2 linked regions of the Homo sapiens genome follow. The protein of the gene in region 1 purifies or fractionates together with the protein of each later gene. This does not show direct contact. Each region holds a gene or a part of one and is shown on either strand. Other genes may lie near its edges.

Region 1 (3,824 bases):
ACTTATATTTAATATTTATTATTTTATTTTTTTTTATTTTTGAGACAGAGTTTTCGCTCTTGTTGCCGAGGCTGGAGTGCAATGGCGTGATCTTGGCTCACTGCAACCTCCGCCTCCCAGGTTCAAGCAGTTCTCCTGCCTCAGTCTCCTGAGTAGCTGGGATTACAGGTGCCCGCCACCACGCCCAGCTAATTTTGTGTTTTTAGTAGAGATGGGGTTTCCCCATGTTGGCTAGGCTGGTCTTGAACTCCTGATCTCAGGTGATCTGCCCGCCTCAGCCTCCCAAAGTGCTGGTATTACAGGACTGAGCCACTGTGCCCGGCCGATATTTATAATTTTACTTTGCAAAGTTGGGATTTTGTTGGAAGTGCTGTATTTGATCCCACTCTTTTTGCATAATTATGAGGTGACTGATAAAGTTTTTTTTAACATGCACCCACCACTTATTGTAGCTGTTAATGTTTTCTGGGTTTACATTCATATGTAGATAGTCTTCTACCTTCAAACTTGATGGTTTCTTTTTTTTTTTGGAGACAGAGTCTCGCTGTGTTGCCCAGGCTGGAGTGCAGTGGTGCGATCTCGGCTCACTGCAAGCTCCGCCTCCCAGGTTCACACCATTCTCCCGCCTCAGCCTCCCGAGTAGCTGGGACTACAGGCACCCATCACCACGCCCGGCTAATTTTTTTGTATTTTTAGTAGAGACGGGGTTTCACCATGTTAGTCAGGATGGTCTCGATCTCCTGACCTCGTGATCCACCCGCCTTGGCCTCCCAAAGTGCTGGGATTACAGGCGTGAGCCACCGTACCCGGCCTGATGGTTTCTTCAGAGGTGTTAATGTTGAATGTGTGAAAGTCACTTAATGAGCTTTTGCATTAAGAGGTTTGGGTGTGTTTCTATTCCCAAAAGGACAAAAGTAATGAAAAAAAATCCCTAATTTCATCTCTGTTAGATGGCATCATTGACAATATATTTCTGTCATTTTCAACATTTTCTTTAACTTTGACCTTTTCTTTTTACAATTACTTTCACAGATAACGTCTGTCCAAATGGTGGTTGAGTCACTGTTTTCCTGCTGTATGATGGTGGCCATCTTTGCTTCCACTGCATTAACATTGAGGCCTGTGTTTCTTATCACTAGCACTGGCACTTTTATTTTCCTGTTCATCTTTATAAAGATGTGGGCACAATGCAGTAAAGTGCCCTATAATTGTTCTGTCAAGGTGGTGTTTTGGTTGATGTTGGCTAAATACGGTAGTACCCCTTTACTTGCAGTTTTGCTTTCTGTGGTTTCAGTTACCTGAGGTCTATTGGGGTATGAAAATATTAAGTGGAAAATTCCAGAAATAAACAATTCACAGGTTTAAATTATGCCCTGTTCTGAATAGTGTGATGAAACCTCACTCCATCCCACCGGGATGTGAATCAATTCTGGCCAGCATCTCCATGCTGTCTAGCTGTCTACCTATGCTCCTCACCCCTTAGTCACTTAGGAGCCATCTCGGTTATCAGATCCACTGTCGCAGAATTGCAGTCTTTGTGTTCAAGTCGTTCAAGTCACCTATATTTGACTTAGTGGCCCCAAAGCGCAAGAGTAGTGATGTTGGCATAGTGTCATAAGAGTTTGATTTTATTATTTCTTATTGTTGTTAATCTCTTAACTGTGCCTAATTTAGAAATTAAACTTCATCATGAGGCCAGGCAAGGTGGCTCATGCCTGTAATCCCAGCACTTTCAGAGGCTGAGGTGGGTGGATCACTTGAGCCCAGGAGTTAGAGACCAGCCTGGGCAACATGGAGAAACCCTGTCTCTACAAAAAACAAAAATTAGCCAGGGCATGGTGGTGTGTGTGCCTATATAGTCCCAGCTACTTGGGAGGCTGAGGTGGGAGGATCACCTGAGCCCAGGGAGGTCGAGGCTGCAGTGAGCCATGGTTGTGTCACTGCACTCCAGCCTGGGTGACAGAGTGAGACCCTGTCTTAAACAACAAAACTTTCTCATAGGTATGTATATACAGGAAAAAACACAGTATATATGGGGTTGGGTACTATCCACACTTTCAGGCATCCACTGGGGATCTTGGAACACATCCTCCTTGGGTAAGGAGGGACTACTCTGTATAGCTCACTGGTGAGCTGATACAGGAAGGGTGGCTTAGGAGTGTCTTTGTGTAGTGTAGCTAAATTCAGGTTGTCAGGTAATCCTCTGTCACTTACCTTGAACAGTATGGAGAGTGAAGGTTGCACTCTTAGTTGGAGAGTTGCTTGATGGTTGCTCATTCAAATATGTTTTCTTGGGCAGCTCTGTAGCTGACCTGTCCAGCTGACAAATAGCTTTGGACTGCAGCAAGTCTGACTTTGTAGGCACGGTTGAGGAGAGGCCAGTCTGTAGGCGTGGAAGGCAGCCTCTGACTCATCTCTCTGTGCTAATTAAATAAAAGGTAACACCCCCTTCCCCATTGCTTGCTTTCCGCCCTCGTTTTCTGTATAGAGGCTGTAGATTTCCCACAGATACTGAGTATCTGGGAGTGACTATGAGACACGGAAGCTTTACTTTCCAGTTTTCCAGGTATTTTAATGTAGTCACCAGTTAGAGCCTCAGAAAGGGCACTGCAGTAATTATGGCATTGTCTACTTTTATTTCAGAGCAGTATGTGGCCAGATCATCTGTGATAACTTGATGTTAAAAAGGAAGTCTTCATATAAGCTGATATGTCTACAGAACTAGCCATTGGATGTAATTCTTTGACCAAGCTATTTTTAGTACTTTAAGTGGCCATACCTGCCTAATTGTAAAGACCCAGTGTTTTCTTAGTGTTCTGAGTCAAGCCGCATTGTTGGTGAATTTTACATATTGCTGTTTGCAGTTGAATTTAGGGTTATGATTGGATCCTGAGAACAGTATCAATCAAGTTACCTCTCTAAATCACTGTGATTGTTCCCAAATATTAGGCATCCCAAGTAGCCCAGAGTAAACCTTTGCTGCCCTGCTTAAAATGTATTTTAAAACATTTACAGTGAGAATATCCCCATATTCTTCTAGCTTATATATTAATGATATTTCAAAACATTTTAGAACTTAATCTGAGAGTCAGTATAGGGCAGTAGGAAATTCAAATACTGAGTTGGTGTGATTACACAGAACATCTGTTTGAATTTTAAAGGGAAGCAGGATTTTACTTTTGGCTTTTCTTCCGTAGTTTGCCTTGTGAGATTAAAATTGCTGATGTTTAAGGAAAGCAGCTGTTGTGGAAAGACTTAGTGGGTTTTTATCAGAGAGTAAATTTTGAAACAATTTGTGGGTTTTTGAAGTAAGGTTACAGTATATAGTGATTAGACAGCATTTTCACTCTCTCATGAAAACTGTGTAGTCAAAACAAAAGTAGGAAAAACACATGCATAACCCCTTAAATCTTATTTATGAAAAGATAACTAGCGAAGATGGGAAAATCAGACTTGTGTTTAAGTATCATTTTTTTATAAACTAGCTAAGTGCATTTTGAAACAAAATTCATGAGGTCTTTGTGGAATGCCTTTTCCATTTTTTTGTTTTGTTTTGTTTTGTTTTTGCACTCACATTATGTCTCAGCAATTTAATGGAGGGCTGATTTCCTAATGCTTTGATCCTTGGTGAGTGTGGTTCACCCCAACTAGGGAGGAATTCAGTCTTTTGTTCTTGATTCCATGCTCATTGATCTCCTCCACTGCCATTCTCAGAAACAATGGCAGTATTTTGTTTCCATAGTAATGAAACTGTTTGCTCTAATAGGATTCTATAGTGGTAATTTTTCTTTAGCTTTGCTAGCCTTATCCCTAAGGACTCTAGG
Region 2 (3,824 bases), on another chromosome or scaffold:
AGCAGGCATCTACACATAAAGCTGGGAGCATCCTTAGTCATGTTCCTTGATTATTAGATTGGAATTAGTCCTTAATCCCAGTAATAAATTATATTTTGGAGCCTATAATTGCATCTCTGAATGTTGTGTCTACTCTACATAATTTGTATTGAATTCAACTTAAAGTAAGGGACTTAAAATTCAAATGCAATTGCCTTGGTACCAAAATACTTCTTGGGCTACTCTGATTTACTTAACACTCAAGATTAACAGTAGCACTGTATGTGGTGTTACCATTAGGGGGCAGCTGACAAGCTCATCTTTAAAGATCTTCATATCCCTATTTCCCTTTAATTTGAATTACCTAGATTCCTAGAATAACATATGAAGGACAGAAAATACGCAGTTTTGAAACTCATGGAGTAAGACTTTATTATGTGTGACAACTAGAAACTTTCATAGTTTATGCATATTTCTATATCAGGTAGATCATTAAATTTAACCATAAGAGTAGATGTTCAAAAGAAGGCATTCTATTTATCTCAACTTCCCATTAATTATATCACTCTCCATCATTTTTATGATATGATTTTGTGTTATTGATATTTATTAAGGCATATTAGTATTCTGTAGAAGACTGAGTATATTTATTGTACTAAAGCAAACAGATTTCACTTAACTGATGATCACAGCACTTGAACTCAATCTTATTTAATAAGACCAAGAAGTCCTGGCATTTGTTTTAGCTTTGCTTTCATTGGTTATACATAAAATTATGACTTACTTTTAAAATGTGTTCTTCAGCTTTGGCTTGCTTCGTGGCCCCTCCAACACCAGGTGAAGCTGTTAGTCCCAGTATCTGAGGAAGGGGAATCACTGGTTTGTTTTCTTTCTTGAGTCTATTGTTTTTCAACTTCTGCATCAAATAATGCCTCATGATGTTATTATACACTGCTTCTTTGTTGGTGTGATGACATTCATCAATGATAATGAGGGAAAAGTCTTAAAAGAAAATTCAAAGAGTTCATTTCTCCATATCAGCACACTACAGTGAGAAAATAGCTTTAGACCAGTAATTGAGCTGCCTTGGGGATGCCTTCTCTTGGGCACGACACAAGAGCAGTCCACTTTCAGTTTTTAGGAGGGAAATCTAACTATACTAGCACCTGTACACACAGACGTTCGTATATACTAATCATGAAACTCCCTGTTAGACATTCTCCTTCTTTAATAGATAAGATTCAGAAAGTTTACAGAGCTAAAAAGCGTTAGATGTGGAATTCACACCCTGGCTTATTACAAAACAAATCTCAGGATTTTACTTTTGTTCTTTAATAAAATATTTAATTTTAGGTTGGTGAATTTTATTTTTATTACATCAAGTGAAAAACACACTATTTAAAGAGGGAAAATTTTGCCTTGTTTTAACATTGCATTTAGTTATTATAAATTATTTTTATTTTTTTCCATTCTTTCTCCTACCTTCTCATCCTATACCCCATAAAAGACAAGATTTGTATTTTTATTCTATGGGAAAGGGAAGCAGATCTAACAACATTCAATAGCAAATAAAGGAACTTGTCAGAATAAATGGAAAGTCCAGCGAGTGCTTGCCTTAATAATGGTATTCTTATGCAGAATAAAGTGGTCTAATTAAAAACTTACTTTTTTTGTTTCCTCCAGGAAGTAGAAGGATTTTAATAAAACCATAAGCAATAAAAGACAATTTAAGCCACGAACATTTAAAAAATTAACAAATACAGCCTTTGTTATCATCAATATTACTATTAATTTTTTTAAAAAAATAAACACTTAAACTGACCTGACAATTGAACACCAGCATCTTCTCCATTTTCCAAGTTTAAGAGGGAGTTTTCAAGGATTTGAGCTGTACTGATAATAATATCACAGGACTTGACAACTTCTGGAAATGATATTTTCAGTTGGGTATCACCACTTAATCCAATAACACGATACCATTTCTTCAAAAATGGTTGGAACTCCTTGCGGAAGAGCTGTTCAACTAGCAGTACCTTAAAAAAATGTGAAGATTTTTTAAAAGAGAGAAAGTTAGTCGAAGCCAAAAGAGTGTTGATCAAAGGCCTGTTTGGCATCCAGCATGAAAAGAGGTGTTTACATTATCAGTGAATCAGGCATAACAACGTTCCCATCACTCCTTTCATTCATCTGTCAATAAGCACTGATTATACCCTTGTTAGGTGTGGGCATTTATGTCTGGGACACAAAGATATTTAACATATGGTTGACAACTCTGAGGAACTCTGTCTAGCTGATCATACAGACCAAGACTAAACAAAGCAAGACAAATTATTACAACACAATGTAATAATGCTCACCTAGAAACACACACAAAGTGACAGTTAAGAGAAGAAGCAACTGACGACTCAAAAAAGGGGAATTTGAAGGAATTTGAATCTAGTAAGCCATGAGTCAGTGAAAAGATAAACTGAAGCTAAGGTTGAATAAGAAATACATTTTTAAATTTGTAGAGCAGTGCCAGGTTATAAAGGGCTGCAAACATCAAGCAGAGTATTTTACATGTAGTATAACAGTTTACAGGATCCCTACAAGTTGTACTGTTGAAGTGATTTATTCCTGTTGTTTGTTTTGGATTAGACCAGAAGCAACAGGCCCACAGGACCGGAAGAATCAGGGAACCACAAGTGAGGAGTTAGGGCATTGACTAGGAGAACAGATGTGAAGTGAAGAAATGAGCTGCTGGAATAGCTGTGGTGGCTGAGAAAGAACAAACCCGAAAGTAGACCTGGCAAAAGAAGTGGAAACTTCGGGTCCTTCTCAGCTGATTCTGTATGTTATAACATCTGCTGAAGGTAGCTGGGTTGACACCTCAATGCTACACATTACTAGTCACTCAAAATACCTTCTGGATTAGGAGAAAAAATATAAGGCCATCTTGAAGGTCATATCCTAGGAAGATTTATGCAATGGAAGCCCAGCAGTGTACAATATGGGAAACAGAGAGTTGGCAGGAAGAGTTTCAAGGGCAAGCTTCAAAGAATGCCCATTATATTATTCACTCTCCATAATTCTACCAGAAATGCAATCAGTGGTTACCTTTCTCCTAGTCTGTAGGGTTTGTGTTATTCATCTTTTTACTTGAGGTAAGTCCCACTTAGGTGTTAAATAAGGAATGGCTGATCCCCCTGGCTAAAGGGAACAGCTACCTTATGAAGAACACTGGTTTACTTTATTATTTAGTGGAAATGATGGAGGCTTCCAAAAGTAGGTGTCTGGGGGGCTGGAAGAAGGGGTGGGGAAGAGTTAAAATGAAATCCATAAATTCTAAGGAAGCAAAGTGGACTTAAAATCAGTAATCAAGTTGGTGAGTGAAAGAACATTACCTTACCACAAGGTGGAAAGGGTAGAAAGAGTAAGAAGAGAAACTTTCATTTAGTTCTTTTTTTTTTTCAAAGTAAAGTCTCTCTAATCTACCTGTTACAAACACGCTTGAGAAGTTTAGAAAATGCAGACTCCTAAGTCCCACTCAAGAATTACTGAATCTAGGGACAATCTCTGGGGGGCAGAGGCTTGAAACCTTCACTTTAATGACATTTAAGCCTTTAAAATTTGAGAGTCACAGCTCTGCTCTTCTCTCTCTCTTCCACAAAGCCGTTCTTGAATCATTTTCTAGAAGTATTCTTTCCATTTCATTTATGCAAGACAGAAGGCTTCTGAGGAAAAGAATGGAAATTAAGTTTAGTGGAAAGAGACAGCATGATGCAGAGGGAAGAAAGCCCTGAAAACAGCTACTCCAGCCACTTACTTCTTTGTACCTTGGACAAGGTCTCAATCATCTTAATGCT

Evidence for each region.
Region 2: the proteins of SERINC5 (region 1) and IFIH1 purify together in Homo sapiens (affinity purification with western blotting, with the first as the bait; one study listed by BioGRID). This does not show direct contact.

What each region holds. Positions count from the first base shown.
Region 1 is NC_000005.10:80,246,021-80,249,844, reverse strand, and holds part of SERINC5 (serine incorporator 5), read left to right. Parts: intron 1-3,824.
Region 2 is NC_000002.12:162,280,565-162,284,388, forward strand, and holds part of IFIH1 (interferon-induced helicase C domain-containing protein 1), read right to left. Parts: intron 2,013-3,824; coding exon 1,802-2,012; intron 982-1,801; coding exon 764-981; intron 1-763.